Linked DNA regions of Homo sapiens. The main gene of each other region encodes a partner of the protein of the gene in region 2 in a complex. Each region holds a gene or a part of one and is shown on either strand. Other genes may lie near its edges.

Evidence for each region.
Region 1: CRIPT (region 2) and CWC22 share a complex: the UniProt entries of both Homo sapiens proteins name them as parts of the minor spliceosome.
Region 3: CRIPT (region 2) and PLRG1 share a complex: the UniProt entries of both Homo sapiens proteins name them as parts of the minor spliceosome.

What each region holds. Positions count from the first base shown.
Region 1 is NC_000002.12:179,968,681-179,976,721, forward strand, and holds part of CWC22 (pre-mRNA-splicing factor CWC22 homolog), read right to left. Parts: intron 5,123-8,041; coding exon 4,954-5,122; intron 4,567-4,953; coding exon 4,513-4,566; intron 2,397-4,512; coding exon 2,261-2,396; intron 2,177-2,260; coding exon 1,970-2,176; intron 1,884-1,969; coding exon 1,821-1,883; intron 1-1,820. UniProt on the Homo sapiens protein: Required for pre-mRNA splicing as component of the spliceosome. As a component of the minor spliceosome, involved in the splicing of U12-type introns in pre-mRNAs. Promotes exon-junction complex (EJC) assembly.
Region 2 is NC_000002.12:46,619,697-46,627,737, reverse strand, and holds part of CRIPT (cysteine-rich PDZ-binding protein), read right to left. Parts: intron 3,975-8,041; coding exon 3,871-3,974; intron 3,576-3,870; coding exon 3,511-3,575; 3' UTR 1-3,510. UniProt on the Homo sapiens protein: As a component of the minor spliceosome, involved in the splicing of U12-type introns in pre-mRNAs. Involved in the cytoskeletal anchoring of DLG4 in excitatory synapses.
Region 3 is NC_000004.12:154,539,784-154,547,824, forward strand, and holds part of PLRG1 (pleiotropic regulator 1), read right to left. Parts: coding exon 7,928-8,041; intron 7,282-7,927; coding exon 7,228-7,281; intron 6,431-7,227; coding exon 6,340-6,430; intron 6,141-6,339; coding exon 6,053-6,140; intron 4,764-6,052; coding exon 4,662-4,763; intron 2,497-4,661; coding exon 2,404-2,496; intron 1,152-2,403; coding exon 1,002-1,151; intron 913-1,001; coding exon 811-912; intron 271-810; coding exon 168-270; intron 1-167. UniProt on the Homo sapiens protein: Involved in pre-mRNA splicing as component of the spliceosome. Component of the PRP19-CDC5L complex that forms an integral part of the spliceosome and is required for activating pre-mRNA splicing.

The DNA of each region.
Region 1 (8,041 bases), about 130 Mb from region 2:
CCTCAGCCTCCTGACTCGTTGGGATTATAGGCATGCACCACCACACCCAGCTAATTTTTATATTTTTAGTAGAGACAGGATTTCACCATGTTGGTCAGACTAGTCTCGAACTCCTGACCTCGTGATCCGCCCACCTCCGCCTCCCAAAATGCTGGAATTACAGGCATGAGCCACCATGCCCGGCCCGTAAAATAACGATTTTCATAAAAATATGTAATTTATGTTAACATATACTAGGTTTGCTATTATTCTGAAATAATTTAATAAATATTCTTTTATATTGTTTTAACCTTTAATATAGTAAATAGCAATAGATACAACCCACATAAAAAGAAGCTCTTTGGAGTTGCCAATAATTTTCAAGAGTGTAAAGGGATCCTGAGACGAAAGAATTTGAGAACTGCTATAATAAAAGAAAGTACTACTTTCCAGGCATTGGCCAATTGCCTAGATGCTAAAGAAATGGATAGAGAATTCTCAAGTTTAAAAAAGAAAGAAATCAAATCAGGTGTATCTAAGAATTTCACAAAAAACATTTGGCATTTTTCAGGGAGACTGTAGGAAAAGAGGTTCATAAGAAAAGAAGGCAAAATGGATCTATGGAGTTCTCTGTTTGGAAATGAAATTATAACAGAAAAAAAGAATCTGGCATATTACAGTGAAAAGCTCCTAGGAAATCAGCATCTAAGAAGAGAAACTCATTATTATAACAGGTTTTTAGGATAATGCAGAGGAATGGAAGATTTCTCCCAATTTTACTTTTCATTTCAACCTTCTACTTCTAAGCACTACTGAACAATGGAATGCAGACAGAGACAGAGTTCTAGGTTTCTGCTTTCTCTGTATATGAGACTACATAAGGCTGGTCTTTATGTTAAAAGCAAACAAATGACAAAAACTAAAATTACATTTTGCCCAATGGTGCTGTTAGCCTGATAAAAGATTTTGCAAAGCTAACCAACTCTTTACATTTCTATTATAATCAGAGAGCTTTTAATACAAACTTTTGGGGTTTAATACAAAGGTAAATTTTATTGCTTCCACAGCAATAAATACTTCTCCAGTAAAATTACAACTCAAGAGAAATAAGCCCATAAAATTATTATGTAAGTAGGCCTGAGTGTTAGCTTTAGGAGGAAAATAATACAAATGTGAAAATAGTAACTAATAATAGCTATCATTGTAGGTGATAATACACAACACTGTGTTTTATATATCCTTCCATAGAAAGGTAACATTTAGTCTTCCAACAAACAAGTAACTTGCTACAGGTCACTCAGCTAGTAATGTCAAAGATAAATTACACATCAAAACCTGTCCAAAGTTAGTACTTACAATATACCAATGATGTACAAATGAAAATGATCAATTTATTTTATCAGAGAGGCACCAATACTATGATTCATCCTACCAGAAGGATATTAACCTGACCTCAAGAAACAATAAAGTATAGCACTTTACAATAAAGTATACCACTTAATTGAATACTAAACTGGGTGGCACAGAATGTAAATGGTAGAGAAGCTAAATAAAGGCCACCACTAATCTATGAATATTTCTTAAGATGGGTGAGACGTAAGTGTTGCATAGTTTAGAGGGAAAGAGGAAAGAACAATGGGGTAAGTAATTCAGAATGAAGTAAAAAACCCTGGGCAAGCACCAGGAAAAAAATAATGCCCGAGGAAACAGCTAAGAGAATAACTTTATAAGAGCAGCGATTCATTAGGTGGGGATCTCTAAATATTTGCTATCAGTATTACGTAACTACTTAAATTGCTTCTACTTATCCAAACTAAATTATTTTATAAAATTTTACATACCTTTCTTAATAGCTTTGTACTTCTCTTCATTCTCCATAAAATTAGGATCCATCTTGAAAACATCTAAAAAAAATGTAAAAGTTAATGTTTATTTTCTATATTTACATTTGTTGGTAAGCCTCTTTCCAACTAACATGCCCCGGACTTACTAAGAACATCTTCTGGATTATAGTCATCCTCCAGAGGGAGCATATGAGTGAATTGATCATCTTCTTCCACCAAATCAAGACCTTCTAGGATAATGGGGTGGTCCTTGAATCCATCTTTCCGTACAGCAAACATCACTTCAATCATATATTGAACTCTTTTGTCAATTTCAGACTCATGCAGAATGTTTCGAAGGCGTTCAAATATAGCTAAAAGTTAACAGAAAGAAAAGACAATAAAATAAGCAATAAATATAATAAAAACTTAACATCAAACTATGAATGTACACTTACCATTGATTCCTCTTGGTGACACTTGTGTTAATTTGAGGCCACATTCCTTAAGAAAACCAATAGCTACTTCAACGCTATCATCTGTTGGTCTTTCCAGGAGCAAAGTGAGCATCTCTAAGCATAATACTTCGTGTGCCTTAAATAAAATACATATACAAGGAAGAAACAAAATGCTTTTACATACATTAAATTATTTTTATAATTTCTAAAAATTAGTAAATCTGTTTACAATAATTATATTGCACATATGATGGGCAAAGTTTTATAAAGCACATGGAAATACTCCAAATATGGGATACAATTTTTCTATCACTTTTATTATCTGTCTACTAAGAATTTTCAGATGACTGTTTCAAAAATCTTAATTTTCTATGCTGAATACAACTATTTGAATTATCTTCAGAAGAAATATTCTTAGCCATTATGTACGGAAAGTGTCATAGATAAAATATGTTAAAAATCATATACTACTTTCTAATAAGGTAATTATTTTCATAATTACTACATAAGAAATAGTAATATGATTTATAATACCCTTCTCCATGATCACAATTCTTTATATACATTTCCCAATTCATTCTATCAGCAACTCTATTAGACACAAATAGTCCTTAAGTTACATGAATACTAATTTTATCACAAAATATCTTAACAACTTCTGGAACACAACAGTTTTGAATAGTCTATCTTTTTTTAAAAAATTAAATCAAACTATTACTGGCCACGTTCAAAAACTGACATTTATAAACAATGCCAGGAAGAGTGGGAATAAAATTCTATTGAGAAGTTTGCTAAGAGAAGAAAACGAACAACAAAGAATGTTTAAAACACCATACATATGCCTTTCTAAAGTCAGACAGTGATTTAAGATGGTGAGGAAAGAAGTCTAAATCTCAACTCAGGAGATATCTTCTTCCAGCTGTGCACAACATCAAAGACACCCACTACTTCTTTTTACTAGGGGAGGAGGGGTGTCAAACAGTCTTAGGTCAGTGACAAGAAAATACTGCCCTGTACCACAGCTGGAAGATGCAAAAAATTTATCATATCGAGTGTTTCATGGCAATGCCAAAAATCTCTAGTCTAAGTGTAATACACATTTAAAAACGGAAATATATCTCTGGTTACAGATGTGAAATTAAGTTTCCATGGTCTTAAGTAGCAAGTTATCACTGTAATAATATGATGACTAATTAGGTCAAAATCTAAAAGATTTGTAAGAGTGAAAGAATTTTCATGTAAATAAGAATCAAAATATTTAATATTAGTGAAATAAGACTAAGCATGACTTTAAAATTCTTCCTGTTATACATGATATTAAATTGGAAATGATAATATATATCTGAAGGAAACTTTTGAGTATGAGCAAGGACAATTTTAGCATTTTCATGGTTAAATAAAAGCTAAATCAAAACCATCAAATAATGAATATAAAATAAACACAAACTGAATAACAGCATGATAAAATTACCTGCATTTGAAACAGATTAAAATCGATCAACTCTATTCTATCAAGTGATTCTAAAAATATATGACTATACCTGTGTGGTTGCAAGGAATAGAGGTTTTTGTAGAATATCAGATATTTATTAGATTCTCATGAACAGCAGGGAATGAAGTGGAGGAGATACCAACTTTATTGTTTTATAAAAATGAAGGGAATGGTTCTTCAAAGGAATGGTTTGCAGTCAAGTAACCATGTACAGTATTAAGTCAGATTAATTTGATAAATATCTAAAGTGTTTTGATCAGCATCAAAGTGTTATATTAAAGAATATTAAATATGGCCAGGCGTGGTGGCTCACACCTGTAATCTCAACACTTTGGGAGGCCGAGGCTGGTGGATCACGAGTTCAGGAGATCGAGACCATCCTGGCTAACATGGTGAAACCCCGTCTCTACTAAAAATACAAAAAAAACTAGCCGGGCGTGGTGGCAGGTGCCCGTAGTCCCAGCTACTCGGGAGGCTGAGGCAGGAGAATGGTGTGAACCCAGGAGGCAGAGCTTGCAGTGAGCCAAGATTGTGCCACTGCACTCCAGCCTGGGCGACAGAGTGAGACTCCATCTCAAAAAAAGAAAAAAAAAAAGAACATTAAATATATTTATTATAGTTTTAAAATGAAAATATCATCCAACATTTTTATCCCAAGGACTATAAAGCAAAGCAAAAATAGAGAGGTATCAGTGAAGTGGCATCAACCCTCTGGTCTAATGCCACTGAATGGGACCAAGTATTGAAGATAATTACTTACCACATTTTGGTTAATAAGATGCGCCACAAATTTTGAAGCAGTCAGGCAAAGTTGCTGAAAAATAAAGGTGGAAAGTTAACCTATAAACTAAACCCAATTTTCATTTATTTACATAATCTATGGCCTACTAACATCATCTATTTAAAACATGTACCACACAAGTATAATTTTTACATTATAAGAAAGTTACAAAATAAAACACATGAAAGAGTATCCCTTCTGGTTAAATAGTTATAGTTCTACAGTTATAGCCATCATTTTTGTGGCTCATCAATAGTGGCCAGGGATATTTAACAGATCAAAGAAGTTCTCATGAAAGACAGTTTTTAAAAAGCATTATGTTATGTAGCTGTGTCAAAATCAACCTTGCTTACTTTTGTTGATACTGGTTTGTTAGTTTGTTCCTATGTATCATTCTACTTACAAGCCATTCATATATACCTTGTCATTTCTTCGATAGCCTTTTCGAAAATTAAGAATTAACCTTTTGAGGATTAATTCTCCAATTTGTGGAAATTTTGAGTTGATAATTGCCACTAATGCTGCATAAACATGGGTGAAGATTGGAGAAGCACTCTGTGCTTGCAAAACAGACCTGGACAGCAGTCCTCTGTTTAAAAAAGAATTTAAAAAGGAGTCAACAATAATCACCAAATTAATTAAACGAAACAAAAACTATTAAAATTCAGTAATATTTCTCTATAAGTAATCATAAAATCTAAATCAGAACTAACTGGAAAGAGTTTGTCTTACTAATAAATAAAAATTGTTTTTCAGAAAACGAAATGTGAATTTGTGATTTTGTAAAATAGAATGAAGATTTTACTGCAATTTATCACCAAAATTTTTCTCTCTACATATAATTCCTCTTTTCCCAGTCTGTTATATCTAATCATGAATTTGAACCTTAAAAAGGTTCATATAAATAATTTCTTTAACATTTTTTAAAAAGTAAACAAAAGCAGACCTGCTTCAAAAGTATAAAAGGTAGATAACATAAAGTTTCTACTACAGATCTGTCATTTTTATAAAATTAATTTTGTGATTAAAGACAAATTTGGGTTTAAATCTTTAAGTCTAATTTTAGTAGAATAAAATGAAGATGTGGAATACTCCTGTGAGAAATAAAGAAACGAATTAAAAGCAATGCCAGATTAATGCTAAAACAGTAACAGGAAATTAAAAGGTACCTACTTGTAACTCATTTTGAAAATGGTCATGTTTCTATATGCATTTGATGAGGAAGGGGAAAGGCAAATTGGGCAAACTAAAGTTACTTTTAGCAATGTAATGACAAGTAATTATTGGATTGCCAAAAGTCAGGAAAAAAAGTCTTAATGGTAGTTTTAGATATGACAACTGAATCACTAGAGTGGAAAATAAGAAAAAGGATGCAGCTTATAAATTATAGTATCTTTAGCAATCCATAACTCTTCTAAGTCTACTTTTTTTCTAAGTAAATTGGAGAGATCTCTGCCCACTTTTGAGGATAATGGCTGTCTCTTGATCAACTTTCTCTACCTCTAAAACTTGCTGCTCCTACTTTATACCCCCACCTTTTTTGGAGAGGTTGGGGAGAGACAGGGTCTCACTCTGTCACCCAGGCAGGAGTGCAGTGGGGCGATCTTGGCTCACTGGAAGCTCTGCCTCCTGGGCTCAAGCAATCCTCCCACCTCAGCCTCCGGAGGAGCTGGGACTACTGTGTGCCACCACGCCCAGCTAATTTTTGTATTTTTCATAGAGACAGGTTTTCACAATGTTGCCCAGGCAACTCCTGGACTCAAGTGGTCCTCTTGCCTCAGGCTCCCAAAGTGCTAGGATTACAGGCTAGGATTACAGCGACCGTGCCTGGCCACTACATTCCATATTTTTTTAAAGATGAATCATAGTCATGTAAAATGACATGAGAAAACAGCCCTCAGATTTTAAAATAATAAATACAACATGGAGTAATTCTATTTTCTGACCCTTTTAAATATCACCAATTGCTTAAAGCCACATATTCTTATAGAATACGGTGATTCCCTTCTGCTTTTCTAAAATGTATTGCTCATCTTTCCCATTTCTCTCACATTCCCATTTCACTCTCACTAGAAATTAAATTGGAATAAAGGCCATATATGACGAACCCATAGCTAATATACTCAACGGTGACAAGCTGAAAGCTTTTCCTCTAGGATCAGGAATAAGAAAAGGGTGCCTACTCTTTCCAATTCTATTCAACATAGTACTAGAAGTCCTAGCCAGAGCCATTAGGCAAGAGAAAGAAATAAAAGGTATCCAAATCAAAAATAGAGAAGCCTGTTTGCTGTAAACAGGATCTTAATATAGAAAACCCTAAAGACTTAACCAAAAAATTGTTAGAACTAATAAACTAATTTAGTAAAGCTGCAGACACAAAATCAACATACAAAAATCAGTAGTGCTTCCATATGCTTACAATGAACTATCTTTCTGAAAAATCAAGAAAACATCCCATTTACAATAGCTATGAAAAAAAAAGTTAGGAATAAATCTAACCATGGAGATGAAAGAGCTGTACACTAAAAACTACAAATTGCTGATGAAAAAATGGAAGAACATGCATGACATCCCATGTCCATGGACTGAAATAATATGTTAAAATGTCCACAGTACCCAAAGCAACATACAGACTGGACTCAATCCCTATCAAAATTCCAGTTACGTTTTTCACAGAAATAGAAAAAACAATCCTAAAACTCACATGGAACCACAAAAAACTCCAAATAGCCACAGCAATCTTGAACAAAAAGAACAAAGCTGGAGGCATCACACTCCCTGACCTGGAATCTGCTACAAAGTTATAGTAATCAAAACAGAATGACAATAGTATAAAAACAGACACATAGAGCTACAGAGAACAAAGAAACCAGAGATAAATCCAGACATTGGCAGTCAACTGATTTTCGACAAAGATGCTAAGAAGACACAATAGGGAAAAGACAGTGTCTTCAATAAATGGTGCCAAGAAAACAGAATACCCAGATGCAGAAGAATGAAAATAGACCTTAGTCCCACAGCATATACAAACATCAACGCAAAACAGATTAAAGACTTAAACATTAGACCTGAAACTGTGAAACTACTATAAGTTTCTAAAAGAAAAATACAAAGGAAAAGCTCTGAGACACTGGTATGGTTAATGATTTTTTGGATATGACCCCTAAAGCACAGGCAACAAAAGCAAAAAGAGACAAATGGGATTACATAAAACTAGAATGCTTCTGCACAGCACAGGAAAATATCAACAGAGTGAAGAGATGACCTACAGAATGGGAGAAAACATTTGCAAACATACACCTGATAAGGGGTTAATATCCAAAACACATTAGGCATTCAACTCAATAGTAAGAAAACAAATAACCCAATCTAAAAAATGAGCAAACAAGAACAGACATTTTTCAAAAGATGTACAAATAGCATATATATATATATGAAATGCTAAACCTCACCAATTATCAAAGAAATACAAATTAAAACCACAATGAGACATCTCACAACTGTTACA
Region 2 (8,041 bases):
TGCAGTGGCTCATGCCTGTAATCCCAGCACTTTGGGAGACTGAGGTGGGTGGATCACTTGAGGCTCGGAATTCAAGACCAGCCTGGCCAACATGGTAAAACCCCATTCCTACTAAAAATAGAAAAATTAGCCAGGCGTGGTGGCATGTGCCTGTAATCCCAGTTAGGTTGGGAGGCTGAGGCATGAGAATCGCTTGAGCCTGGGAGGTGGAGGTTGTGGTGAGCCAAGATTGTACCACTGTACTCCAGCCTGGGCAACAGAAGGAGACTCTGTCTTTGGGGAAAAAAAAAAAAAAAGATTTAAATGTAAGACTTCAAGCTATAAGAGTCCTAGAAGAAAACCTACGAAATAACATCTGGACATCAGCTATGGGAAAGAACTTACGGCTAAGTCCTCAAAAGCAATTGCAACAAAAACAAAAATTGACAAGTGGAACCTAATCAAACTAAAGAGCTTCTGCACCGCAAAAGGAACTATCAATACAGTAAACAGACAACCTACAGAATGGGAGAGAATATTCACAAACTGTGCATCTGAAAAAGGTCTAATGTCCAAAATCTATAAGGAACTAAAACAATTCAGAAAACGAAAACCAAGTAACTCGTGGCCAGGTGTGGTGGCTCACTCCTGTAATCCCAGCACTTTGGGAGGCTGAGATGGGTGGATCACCTGAGGTCAGGAATTCGAGACCAGGCTGGCCAACATGGTGAAACCCTGTCTCTACTAAAAGTACCAAAATTAGCCACGCTTGGTGGCAGGCACCTGTAATCCCAGCAACTCAGGAGGCTGGGGCAGGAGAATCGCTTGAACCCGGGAGGTGGAGGTTGCAGTGAGCTGAGATGGTGCCATTGCACTCTAGCCTGGGTGACAACAGTGAAACTCCATCTCAAAACAAAAACAAAAACAAAAATACACACACACAAACAAAAACCCATTAAAAAAATGCCAAAAGACTTGAACAGACACTTCTCAAAAGACAACATACAAGCGGTTAACAAACATGAAAAAATGCTCAACATTACTAATCAGATAAATGCAAATCAAAACCACAATGAGTTACAATCTCACACCAGTCAGAATGGCTATTATCAAAAAGTCAAAAAAATAACAGATGCTGGTGAGGCTGTGGGAAAAACGGAATGCTTCAACACTGTAGAAGCCAGTGCAGTGTAGAATGCGCCTACACTGATGGAAATGCAAATTAGTTCAGCCACTGTGAAAGCAGTTTGGAGATTTCTCAAAGAAGTTAAAACAGAACTACCATTTGAACCAGCAATCCCATGACTGGATATAAATCCAAATGAAAATAAATTGTTCTACCAAAAAGACACATACACTCACATATTCATCACAGCACTATTCACAACAGCAAAGACACAGAATCAACCTAGATGCTCATTAATAGTGGACTGGATAAAGAAAATTGGTACATATACACCACAGAATACTATGCAGCCATAAAAAAGAATGAAAATCATGTCTTTTGCAGCAACATGGATGCAGCTGGAGGTCATTATAGTGAATATACACAGGAACAGAAAACCAAAGACCGCATGTTCTCACTTATCAGTGGGAACTAAGCAATGGGTACACATGGACATAAAAATGAGAACAGACATAGGGGACTACTGGAGGGAAGAGGGGAGGGAAGGGGTGAAAAACCACCTGTTGGACTCTATGCTCACTACCTGGGTGACAGGATCATTTGTACCCCAAACCTCAGCATCACAAAATATACCCATATAACTCACCTGCACATGTACCCCTACATCTAAAATAAAAGTTGAAATTATAAAAACAACAACAACAACAAAAAAAATGAAATGTGAGTTAGGCAAGTCCAGATTCTAGCTGATCCCTGAGAAATGTACTTTTCTCCAAGTCAATGAATCCAATCTTTAATGGATCTGGGATGCTCTCTGACCAGGTCCTGTTATGAGTTTCCTGTGTTATAATTAAAAACCCCAAACTGATTAAGCATGAGAGGATACTTCCTGCTCTCAGATAAATTATTTATTATATTCTGTATTATCCTTGTAATTTTTCTGGATATGAATAAATAACAATGTATCTCAGAAAAACACATTTTGAAAAGCCTTATAAAGTTAAAACTTTAAATGCTTTTCATCAAAATGTTATGACCAATAAAAATGCCATTCATGTATCTCATCACACTTTCTATACATTTTGTAGTGATATGTATTTATACATACTGCAGTTGGAAATAGGGAATGCTTTTTTGGTTTCCCACGGTAGGCTGCAGGTTTTAAAAGCAGAAGTCCTGAACCTCTGAAGGCAACATAAGAAAAGTATTCATTTGAAACCTGTAGTGTTAAAAAAAAAAAAAAAAAAAAAAAAAAAAGAGAGAGGCCAAGTTCTGTGGCTCACACCTGTATCCCAGCACTTCGGAAGGCTGAGGCCAGAGGATTGCTTGAGATCAGAAGTTCGAGAACAGCTTGGGCAACATAGTGAGTCCTCATCTCTACTAAAAATAAAAACTAGCTGAGCACAGTGGCACACGCCTGTAGTCCCCAGCTACTTAGGAGGCTGAGGGGGAAGAATTGCTTGAGCCCAGCAGATGGAGGCTGCAGAGAGCCTGATGATACCTCTGCACTCCACCCTGGGCAACAGAGTGAGCTCTTGTATCCAAAAAAAAAAAAAAAAAACAAACAAATTTTAAAAAGGGAGAGTCAAGATGTTTGCTCTATTTATTTCTTTTAGGGGGCAAGACAGGAGGTAAAAAAAAAAAAAAAAAAGTTTGGTTTTTGCTTCAAAGAGCTTTTCTCAGAGCAGGGATTTATTTTCATTACATGCAACATGGACAAACACTGTTCTGGTTTTCATGACAATTTGAATTCAAAGTAATATGTTTTTCTAAAATTCAGTGTATTTATTTGGCCATATGGATGCTCCTTGTGTTCTTGGTCACATATTAAAGAAACTGGCACTTTGGCTGCAAGAACAAATAAAAAATATCATAAATCCAACTGGTCTTTGATTTGGGTCTAGGTTAATAACTAAAGAACCATTCAGCAATAATGGCTTGAAACATTTATATATCCTATGAAACCGCAATTAGTTAAGAGGCTGCTGATTCTAATAACTATGACACCAGCAAGGGAGTGAGGGGAGAAATGTTAACTCTGGATGCCAAATTCAGAGCAAAGTATCTATTATCTCCTTCTCACTTTTGCAGTATCTATAAATAAAGTGGTGGGGGGAGAATTATATGAATAATGTTAAATAAAAGTGCATACAGAACTGAGAAATATTTTCATGGAATTTGCCACTTAGTTCTTAAAATTCTTATAAGGAAAATAACCATTTACAACAAAAGACTAGTTACACTGTTGCTGTTTAGAACATGAGAGCAAAATGAGTAACAATCAAATTCTCTGGTTTAAACTTAATTATCTTAAAACATGTTATTCTGTAAGTTGACATCTATGCCTTGAAAATTCAAGGCAGAAAGTAAAATCATTTAGAAAGCCAGAAATTCCATCAATACATCTAGACAGATGTTTGCTTGTAGTTTTTGGTATCCAAAACCTTTTTTCCACACATCGCACAGATGCCTGAAACAAAAGAAGATATGTGATCAATCAAATCATAATACCAACTGTTTGGTTTAAGTCAATCCTGAAGCTTAAAACATAATTTAACAGCATCAGGAAAGAAAAGAAAAGAAAAAAAAAATATATATATATATATAATTTTAATTATAAACAGGTTTTAGGTTCTATTTTGCCTTAGGATAAAGAGAGTGTTTGGCTAACAGAATTTATGACAGGCTACATCTTTTCTGTTAACCAAATTAGCAGCAAATGAAGTCGGTTTTATGAATAGAAAACGGTATTAAAAGAAACTTACCTTTTTTGTAGGCACAGCCCTGGCAGTAATGAGAACCTGGTTGGTGCACAGAACTTTTACAAATTCTACAAGTGGAGAACTTATTCTTTCCATATGGATCAAATCTAGAAATTTTTTTTAAAGAGAGAAAATTGTATATTACACTAGAAACACTCTTAAATAACCCCACTTACGCAACACACAGGATTAATCCATGCTCTCCATCCCTCCATCAACCTCTACAATTGATGGGTTTAGCCTATTCCAGATGGCTACTGTCTGATATGCCTGTACATCTCTGCTCTGCTCCATCCATGTGAGATATATACTTATAAAGAATCAGTTGTACAGTATTTATTCTTGACGTGTTCATATCAGTCGTATCTGTCATTCTATTTGTGTGACATAAATATTATGGAAACTGATGAAATGTGGGTGCAAAAAGAGTGACTGATTCCATATAACCTAAGTGACTATTTTAGGATGACTAGGAATCATATGAATTGCTATTGAATTAGGTATGGGTAAGACAACTGTTGAAAACTGGGGGAAAATCACTAGGAAAGTAACTCCACACCTCAAGCATCAATTTTTGCTCTACTTTAAAGAAACTGAACATATTCTGATTGTGATTTTTGTGACGACAATCATGTAAAGCACTTATCAGTCGATTTATGCTCAAAAGGCTTTGTTTCAATACCAAATGATTAATGCATCTACAGTTATGCGCTTTAATTTAAAATAAAGTATGTGTATCTTTTAATGACTGCTTACATTAGCTGACATTTTTAATTAACTGACTCAATCCTTTTAGATAAAAGGGCTTCCACTATATAAAAATGCCATCTTATAGTGACAGGAGTGAAAAAAAGAAATACTTTCCCCTAAAATGGCAATAATACTCTGATTTAAATGTGCTTCCCTAACATTTTTACAAAATGAGTTTTTGTAATGATCCTCATATACTAGATACGAAACACCGTCCTAGAACTGGTGTCTTCTCTTGGGTATAGTACAACAGCCCATTTACAAAGGTTAATTTTTCCAAACACAGAGAATATCACTTTTTTTTTTTTGAGACTGAATCTCACTCTATCGCCCAGGCTAGAGTGCAATGGCGCAATCTTGGCTTACTGCAACCTCTGCCTCCCAGGTTCAAGCAATTCTCCTGTCTCAGCCTCACAAGTAGCTGGGATTACAGGCATGCGCTACCACGCCCGGCTAATTTTGTATTTTTAGTAGAGATGGGGTTTCTCCATGTTGGTCAGGCTGGTCTCGAACTCCCAACCTCAGGAGATCCGCCTGCGTTGGCCTCCCAAAGTGCTGGGATCACAGGCGTGAACCACTGCGCCCAGCTGAGAATATCACTTTACTCCCCACAAAAGATAGGTACTCTTCTTCCTTTCAATAAGTTCAATTTGTTTGGACATGTATTTCCAGAGGCTATTTTTTCTTAAAACCATATTTTATTATTCAAAAATACACATTGTAACCTTGGAAATCTTTTTTTTTTTTTTTTGAGACGGAGTCTCGCTCTGTCGCCCAGGCTGGAATGCAGTGGCGCAATCTCGGCTCACTGCAAGCTCTGCCTCGTAGGTTCATGCCATTCTCCTGCCTCAGCCTCCCGAGTAGCTGGGATTACAGGTGACCGCCACCACGCCCGGCTAATTTTTTTGTATTTTTAGTAGAGACAGGGTTTCACCATGTTAGCCAGGATGGTCTCGATCTCCTGACCTTGTGATCCGCCTGCCTCGGCCTCCCAAAGTGCTGGGATTACAGGCGTGAGCCACCGCACCCGGCCTAACCTTGGAAATCTTAAAACTGGCAGAGTTTTTTCTTAAAGTAACAATGCATCTTATAAATAACAGTACCATAGATTCCAAGCAATACTGTAGTACATTTTCCAAAGTAAGAGAGTACCCAAGAGTTACAGCTACTTTTTAATGATATCAGAGTAAGTTTGAGAGCATAAAGGAACTGGAAGTATATAAAAGCATAAAATCTGTACAAATAATAGCTCAGTCAATAAAAACAGAATGGTTCTCAAAGACCTCAATAAGTCAGTCAATAATATATAGTGTGAATCTGCATTAAAGATGCTATTATGTGCTAGGCACTGTATGTAGTTAAGGCTTTATTGTTGTTATTTCTAATCCTTGGGATGACATCAGAAAACAGGTATTTATTCATTCAGCAAATATATACTGAGTGCTTAATATTACATGGTATTTACTGTTCTAAATACCAAAGATGAACATGATAGGCAAAGCCCTTGCCCTCATCAGATAATATTGTAGTGAGAAGAGGTAAACAGTAAGTAAGGAAACAGACAATCTAATAAAACAAGCAAGGTTTTCAAATAGTAGTATTATAGAGAAAATTCTAACAGGATACTAAGGCAGAGATGAGGAAAAGGAAAGAAGAGATTAGTTTAGATGCTGATTAGGGAAACTTCTCTGAAGCTGAGACCCAAACAGCAAGAAGGAGGCAGATACGTAAGCTCTAACGGAAGACTCCTAGGAGACAGCAGCAAGTACAAATCTCTTTGGATGGGAGTGGGCTTGGCAGAACTAATAAAGACAGCATATGATGAATGAGGAGCAGTGTGGTACAATACGAAGCCGGAGAGGTGGGAGGGGTCATATTAAGGAGGACCTTGTAAGAACATGGTAGGGGGCTTAAATTTTATTCTATGTGAAAAAGAAAACCAGTGGCGGATTTTAAGCAAAGGAACTTTGTAAAGGATCACTCTCGTTACTATGAGACAACTGCGGGAAACTAGAGAAGCAGGAAGATAGTTCAATAGTTATTACAGTTCCAAGTAAGAAATAACAGTGGTTTGGAAAAGGGTAATAGCAGTGAGATGTACAGAAGCAGGTGGTTTCAGGTTACATTTTACGTTTTGGAGGTAGATCCAAAGAACTTGCTGATGGATAGGGGAAGTAGGGGAAAGGGAGGACTCAGTGAGGAATTCTAGCTTTTAGGCTTGAACAAGTGGATTAGAGAGTGGTGCTACTATGATGAGAAGACGGAAGGAAAAAGAAGTGGCCTGTTAGACATTAAATGAGGTATGTCAGATAAACTGCTAGATATACGTTTAGAGCTCAGAGAAGTCAGGCCAGAGGTATAAATTTGGGAGTTATATATATATAATAATATTATAATATATATATAATAATATTATTACATATATATATATATAACATATAGCTTGAATTTAAAGCCAGTAGATTGAAGTCACTCTAAAAGGTCACTTGTGATCTCGACAAGAACAGTTTCAGGGCTGTTGTGGGGATAACACATGACTAGAGTGGCTGAAGGAGGGAAAGGAACTTAAGGACACTGAAAAAGTGTCTAGGTAAGACTTTGGAAAACTTCTGATGTGAAGGGGAGCAAAGAAATCAGATGGCAGATGAAAGGGTTCACGAAATTTTTTTTCTGAAAGAGACTCTCACTCTGTCAACCCAGGCTGGAGATCAGTAGTGCGATCCTGGCTCACTGCAGCCTTGACCTCCCTGGGATCAAGTGATCCTCCCACGTCTGCCTCCTGAGTAGCTGGGACTACAGGCGCGTGCTGCCACACCCAGTTAATTTTTCTGTCCTTTGTAGGACAGGGTTTCACATGTTGCCCAGGCTGCTCTCAAACTCCTGGGCTCAGATAATCTGTCTGCCTTGGCTTCCCAAAGTGCTAGGATTACAGGTGTGAGTCACCTTACCCAGCCGAATTTTTAAGCTGGATATAATAAAGTGTGGTATCAAACACTTGTTTTTAAGATGGGACACTTTTTACGCAATTCTCAGGAAAAAGTAAAGTTTAGAAAGGTCACGAAACATGCTTAACTTGCTTAAGGTCATAAGGCTAGACAGTGAGTCTAGATTCAAATTTAGGTCTGACTCCAAAGCTTATGATCTTTCCACATTTGCCTGCTGTCTCTGATTCATAAGATAATTAAGAAGGAGATAAAATAAAAGTCATGTTTTCTGGTGAAACTGTAAGAGAATAACACTAATATCTTCATATATTGATACAGTGAGGAGGAATAAGGTAAAACCAGCAGGATTATAACAGATAGCTTGGTTCTGAGTGCTAGGAACCACCTAACTCTGTTTTATTGCAAATGGAATGATGCACATCAAATTCACTCCAGCAGACTTAATACTAAAAGAAGGAAATTTATGTGACCCATCGATG
Region 3 (8,041 bases), on a different chromosome or scaffold from region 2:
AATGAAATTTCATTTGAATACATTTCAATTGTCCATGATTAAAATATGACACAGAAACACTGTAAACACAATACAGAGCAAGAGTCATCATGAATATTAAAAGTATATGTATAATAACATGGATTCTGACATGAATATTCTGTAAACTTGAAAAGTATCGATCATACCTGTAATAATTTGTGGTTCTGCAGCCTGACATCTCACTGTAGCAACTGCATTTGTATGTCCAGATAATGTGTGTACACTGGCTTTAGTTCTCACATCCCAAATCTATAAAAACACAATAGACATATTAGGAAAGAGAATAGGTATTCATTATCTCAAGAAGATAACTGGATCAATTCAAGGCTGAAAATTTACTACATAACTAGTGCCTGAATATAATAAAGAAAATGCTTAAGTGAAAGATAATGATTTACAAACTGGAGGACGAATATAAATAGGAGACAACTTGCAAGAATTCTAAAAAGCTAAAAGATCAGGGTACTGAAAATCTAAGAATGAGTATGATGGGACTACTTTTTAAGACTACTGAATGAAAGAACTAATGGACAATAGTTGTTACAGAATGGAACGTGAGAATATCACATTTCAGGGGCAGGGCACTAATAACACTAACATGGTGAGGCCATACAACTGAAGACTAAGGTGGAAAAAAATGCAAGTTAAGAAACTTAGGGACTAGGATATTGATGACTCAAGACAGCTATCTTTAATTCTCTATCAATCAATTGAAGACACTGAAACCGAAAGTGCACCCTACAAGATGCAATATATTTACAGATAAATACACAACTCTATCCCATTTACCCGTGCAGTTGAATCTCGACTACAGGTTACCAACACATCGATTGTCGGGTGCAAATCCAAACCATACACTGCACTTAAATGTCCATGATAATGCCGTATAACCTAAAGACAAAGCAGGAAAGTTAAAACTTCTAGAATTAGAAAGATAAATAGTAGTTCACAATGTTTTAAATCCTTAACTCCAAACTTACCTTATTGTATTCGAGATCCCAGCATTTCACTTGTTTGTCTTCTCCACAAGAGAACAGATATGGGCTCCTTGTGCTTACTATCACGCCCCGCACAGTACTAATATGCCCAGTCAATGACAGTTTTAATTTGCCACTAGCCAAGTCCCAGATCTGCAATCAAAGAATATTTATTTTTTTCTTTCACTGGTTACTGCAAAACAAAATTTTAGAAACCTGATTATTAAAACTGAGCTTTCAAAGACAAAAGGAAAAAGATAACAAATACGTAAAAATAAAAAATTTTGCAAAATGACTCCCCTCCAAATAAAAGCAAGAAAAAAACTGGCATGCTCAAACTGGAAAAATATTTGCAATTAGATGACAAAAGGTTAACCTTCTTGTTATATAAATGATATCTTTGATAATAACAGTAAGAAAAGTATGGTATTAAATTAACTGAGGCTGGCAACAACTTAAAGAAATCCTAAAAGCAGCAAATACAGATATGAAAAAGTTCACACTCATTAGAAATTTCATACAAAGTTTTTTAAAAAGATTAAGTATCCATTTTTGCTTACCATATTAGATATTTGTAAAGGAATGTACAACCAATGTGCTGAAAAGGATCCTCTCATACACTGCAAGTATCGATTCACCCATTTGGAAAGTAATTTGTACTTTGGGTATCAGCTTCAAAAATATTTGACCCATTTATTCCATTTATGGAACTCTACCATAACAAAATAATTTAAAATACAGAAAAAGTCTTATATACAAAACTTAACAGCATTACTTGTAATGGTGAAAATCAGACTAAAAACTCTACTGTCCAGTAATAGGAAAACAGATTACAGACTATCTAAATGATATAATATTATGCAACCACTTTAAAAGATGGTAAATTTTTCACAGGAATATGCCTTTGATACAACGTTAAGTGAAAAAAGCAAGATACAAAATTACATACTAAGAATGATTTTTTAAAAGATACACACACAGGAAAAGAGCTTAGAAGTGAAGGTATTGATACTTACAGAAATAAATACTAAAACGAAACTTATCCAAATATCTAACAATGGTAGGATTATATACAGGTCTATGTACTTTCCTAATTCTCTATATTTTCCACATTTTCTATGAATGAGCATGCTCTTAATTTTGTAACCAGTTGGAGAGAACAATGTAAGTATAAAGGAATTAGTGGTAGGTATTCAGTAGGTAAAGAAAAAGTGGTTTAAATAGCACTTTTCAAACAGATATTTATTTAGAACACTTATTAGTATAAATGATAAATTTTACTCCTTATTCAGGTCTAAAATAACAGAGGAACTGCAATAGCAATTCCTGCCACAGGAAATAATAACTGATTAAACTTACATGACAAACACAAAGTCATGTTTATTTTTTCTTCCTTCATTATTACCTTTATAGTTCTGTCAGCAGATCCAGTAACAAACCACTGATTTCCAGGTTCCACAGCAATACATCGAACCCAGCCAAGATGCCCACTGATAACCTGTATAAAACAAAGTAGAATGGGCAGGCCAACGTAGAAGTTAAAATGTATTTAAGTTTAACTGCAGCCCGAGTTTGAATTGCCCTCCCATCTTCAAATCATAAAAGATAATGACTATTACATTTTACAATAATATGAAATTATCTTCAGTGAGTTAATAGTTAACACAAATTGTGGCTCATCTATATAATGTAAACTACTCAGTAATAAAAAGGAATACATTATTAATACTTGCAACAACTTCAATGACTCACAAAGTATTAAGCTGTGTGAAGGAAGCCAGTCTCAAAAAGTACATATTGTATGATTCCATTTATATGACATAGTCAAAAAGACACAGCTAAACCAACCTAAGTGTCCATCATGAGGTGAATGGATAAATAAAATGTGGTACATACACACAATGGAATACTATTCAGCCATAAAAAAGAATGAAATTCTGTTATTTGCAACAACATGGATGGAACTGGAAGATACTATGTTAAGTGAAATAAGCCAGGCACAGAAAAACAAATATTGCGTGCTCTCTCTCATATACGGGAGCTAAAAAATAAATGATCTTCAGAGTTGAATGATGGCTACCAGAGGTTGGGAAGAATAGTGGGGAGGCAGAAGATAAAGAAGAGGTGGATCACGGGTACAAAAATAGATAAAGGGAGTAAGATTTAGTGTTTGGTAGCACTAGTTTGGTTAGCTAGTTTGGTAGCACTAGTTTGGCTAGTTAGCTTGGTAGCACAATAGAGTGACTACAGTTAAGAGTAATTTATTGTATATTTCAAAATAACTAGAAGAGTAAAATTGGAATGTTCCTAATACAAAGAAATAATATCCCAATTACCGTGATTTGATCATTACACACTGTATGTTTTTCTTTGTTTTTTGTTTTGAGATAGGGTGTCACTCTGTCGCCCAGGCTGGAGTGCAGTGGCGTGATCTTGGCTCACTGCAACCTCCGCCTCCTGAGCCCAAGTGATCCTCCCACTTCAGCCTCTGGAGTAGCTGGGACTACAGGTGTGCTCCACTACACATAGCCAATTTTTGTATTTTTTTGTAGAGGCGGGGTTTTGTTGTGTTGCCCAGGCTGGTACTGAACTCCTAGGCTCAAGAGATGCGCTTGCCTAGGCCTCCCAAAGCACTGGGATTATAGGCATGAGCCACCATGCCTGGCCTACACACTGTATGCTTGTATCAAATTTGATATGTAGCCCATAAATATGCACATCTATTATGTTAGCCATAAAAATTAAAAATAAATTAGAACTGAAATTATTGAAAAAAAATAAGACAACTATAGTGATAGAAAACAGATCAGTGATTGTCAGAGGTGAAGGAAAGTGTAACTACAAACGAATAGCACAAGGGTGTTTTTTGAGGTGGTGTAACATCTATATCCTAATTGTGGTAGTGGTTACCCAAATCAATACATCTATTACAATTCATTAGAGCTGTATGTCAAACAAAAAGGCTCTTACTGTACAATCATTTGAAAAATGAAATTTTTAAGATACATATTAAATTATGTGTAGCTGTACATTTCCTACTATGTACATTTTCTTTTTTAAAATTTTCTGTTTTTAATTTTTGTGGGTACACAGTAGAAATGTATTTATGGAGTACATGAGATATTTTGGTATAGGCAAGCAATGCAAAATAAACAGTATGGAACACTTCACGAATCTGTGTTATCCTTGTGGAAGGGCCATGCTCATCTTCTCCGTACCATTCCAATTTTAGTGTATGTGCTGCTGAAGTTAGCATGCATGTCCATTTTCTTTTAGATGATACACTCTGAATCATTTTCATTTATTGTAGTTGAAAGAGTAACTGGTAGGCCCAAATAAATTTCTTTATATGGTGTTTTTCCCCTTCACCTTCAAACTAAATACTTTGAACACTTTTTCTACATTTATTTAGTCTGCCATCCATATTTAGTAGCTTTATCTTGACATTTCATACTATTTTATATAAAAGTATAACTTTTGCTTAAGGAAGTCACCTTCCCAAGAGATCTTTTAAGATACTCCCTACGACTCTTCTCAATCCACCTCAGATCGCTCTACCAGCTTTTCATATTCACTCTTTTTCCTCCTTATTCTATTCTTCAGTGCTTGTCAACTACAAAGCAATCATGGTTCACATAATAAAATAAATGCAGAGTCACTCACCCTGTAGAGTTTCCACGGTGGGTGCCACTGGGGTTTTGGCATTGTAGGGGCTTTTTTAGCCATCAGTGCAGAGTTCTTGGTATTGCCAGTCTCCATGACAATCTAGACATAGAAGAGACATTATTATTATTAAAGACATCATACCTAAGGCTTCATGATATCAATTCAGAAATGGAAATGGAAAGAGGGAACTTACAAAAGAATTTTTCCATAAATGAAGAAATACAATTTTCTGTATGTTAACTTAAAAAAGCAATTATAAAATCACAGACAGGCAGAGCATTAGACTTAAGAGCACACATCACTGTGTACGGGTTCAAAACCCAGCTTGGCCAATTACTAGCTGTTTGACATTAGGTAACAATCATGTAACCTCTATGTGGCTCACCTGTAAAATGGGAAGAATAGTGCCTATTTCATAGGGTTACTACAAAGATTTAATAAGTAGTAAATGCTCCATGTAAGCTCCCAATATTAAAGTCATTTTAAGTGTATTAGTGCCACTGTCTTTCATTGTCATATTTTAACATTATTGGTTTAATATAGCAAAGACTGACAGTTCCTTCTATTTATCTTCTAATACAATATTTAAATACTATTTTAACAGGTATACTGCCTGATATACCATCTGTTGTTAGCAGTCATCTAGTCATCCAAAACATAAATAAGCCCATAAAGTTCCTGCCCTCAAGAAGCTTAAATTATACCCTCATAAGGAGGGTAGAGAGCCTGGACAGAAGACGTGCTCTGAATGGAATAAAGGAGGAAAGGAGATGTGGCAGTTACACATTCATTCACTTCATAAAGTCAAATCAATTGCATAATGAGCTGAGAAGCAAAACCAGCACTTATTTCAAGTGGCAGCATATTTTATTATGCTGCAGATAAATCAATAAAATAACTATAGAAAATTCAACAACTATTTCTACCATACTAATACCAGTTGCCATTTACTTACAAACAGATAAACTTATTTCTAAATGCTCATTTATAAGACTAGTTGTATAGCCCATGAATAGTACAACACTAACAGCACTCAAGATAACTGTACACACCAACTTAAAATTTAATAAAAAAAAAAAGACTTTCATATTCAATACATACTAACACAAGTTTCAGAAAAACTCTCCTTGCATTTTTAATAGTGGGCAATAAATACCAACATCACATTATCTTTATCAAAATATATATTACACACAATGTACAAGTAGACAAATAACAGAATTAAATTCCAAAAAATACGTTAATTTACTACCAACTTGAGTTTTAGGGCTATGAAATATGAATGACTAGCTCAGGCTGCTATTTATCTTAATAATTCCAAAGAAGAGGGAAATATGGCAACATGTTCCAAAAGTTAGAAACCTGCTATTTGATGCAGAAAAACTTACTGAATTCATCGCTGTAGGCTGTGGACGGTCAGAAGCCCCAGGATGTCGGTATTCACTTCCACTAGGGGCAGTACGATTTGCATCAGCCCTGGGGCAAAAGAAATAATATTTTCAAAGTAATTAATGCCTCCAGTCATGTATTCTGCAAAACTAACCCTTTATTTTAAATTGTTATAAAGTCCTGATAAAGGAAAATGTCATATAATAGTTATAAAGAAATTTTAAAAAGAAAAAATGTGAACAGTGAAATATGCTTTTAAGATCTTTGTAATTATAATATTTCATACTTGGTCTGCAAAGGTAATGCCACCGCTAAGGACTGTGCAGCTGATTCACTTGGCATTCTCTGGATCTTAGTATCTGCTGTCAAAGCAACCCCTATTAAAATGAAAAATCAACTTCTTTTAGTAGCTGTGTATTATTCATTTACATGCACTTAAAATAAAATGATGAAGGAAAACATACACCAAATGTTTATTATCTCCAGGCAGTGATATTATACAAATTTGATTAAGTTTTGCTCATCTTTGTTTTTAATTTCTACAATAAATACTGCTTAATAACACGTAACTCAAATTTGATTTGATCACAGCCCACATGGTATTAAAGCAGCCCAGAATAGTAAAGTTAATTTCCATTATATTTGGGTATTAGTTTCAAGTCAGTATTAAGCAGTTCCTCAAATACTAACAGAATGTTTCCAAGAGTGGATGTAACTTACTAAAACTAGAAACACCCAATTTCCCTGTACTTTCTTTACATACTAAGCCTTTTGTCCTCTACCCTGTTACACTGGCCACTCCATCTGTGGACCAATGCCTTAATACAGACAGAGGACATGTTTCTCAGATACTGCTTCTAACATTTCCATCATTTTTACAAGCTTAGTGATATTTACATGTCTGCCTAAACCACCAGATAATAAATAACTAGGCCTGCAACAGTTTTACTGTCTTTGAATTCCTAGCACATTGCCTGAAAAATTATACGTACTTAAGAATGTTTGCTGAATGAAGGCATATGAGTATTCATTATTACCTACAAAGCTATGCATGGATGCTTGGCTACTGAGCTTATCTTGCATTTTATAGGCAACAAGAATCTCATTATTGGCTCGTTAGTGAAAATATATGTGACATTTTTAAGACATTTTCAATATATAACAGCTCACTAACCAGGTCCTGGTGGGTATGGATGTGTACCTGCCACAAAGTATTCAACTTCTTGTCCTAAAAAAACACAAAAAAAATCAACAGTAGTGAATTTACCTTATACAAAAGTTATCATCTCTTTAAATGTATCAAGTAATATTAAGTTTTCAACTGGATCTATCAAATTTTCTCAACTAAAGTCAAGCCTCAGAAATAAGGGAAGTTGATCACTTTTGCTTTGATCTCTGTAAACCATGTCCTTGACCATTTGCTATATAGCAATGGTATACAAAGAAGCCCTCCTATCAAGTGACAATCCACTCTGGTATTTCTTCCAAGCAAATGGTTTCCTGTGGAATCTTGAATTCTCTTTACTTATTAAGATTTCAGTATTTAATTTCATCTTTCTGAATTACAGACAAGATAGATGGTGTCCTCACAGGTTAAGAATATTCTCCAATTTTTTCCTTTAATCTCTACTGTGACCTTCTCCACACTCTAAGAATCTCTGCCATCATTATACTACCATTTTTATTTCCTATAAGAAAAAAGTCATCAACAGTATTCCCATGAGGATCAAAACTTCCATTATAATACAGGTACGGCCATTAAATACTGTACGACCACAATAAGTCCTGCCAGGAGGGGCAAAAATAACATATTTTATTTTTCTGTTTTTAAAATTCACATATAAGTCTGACATTTCTGATAATACCATACTCACCTTGATTGGCAGGGTACTGTTTATGAACATATGAATCCGTTGCATTCTGAGGACCCTTCTCTTTAAGATTTTCTTTTGAAGTAGGCATATGCAACACAGGACCATACTCATTAC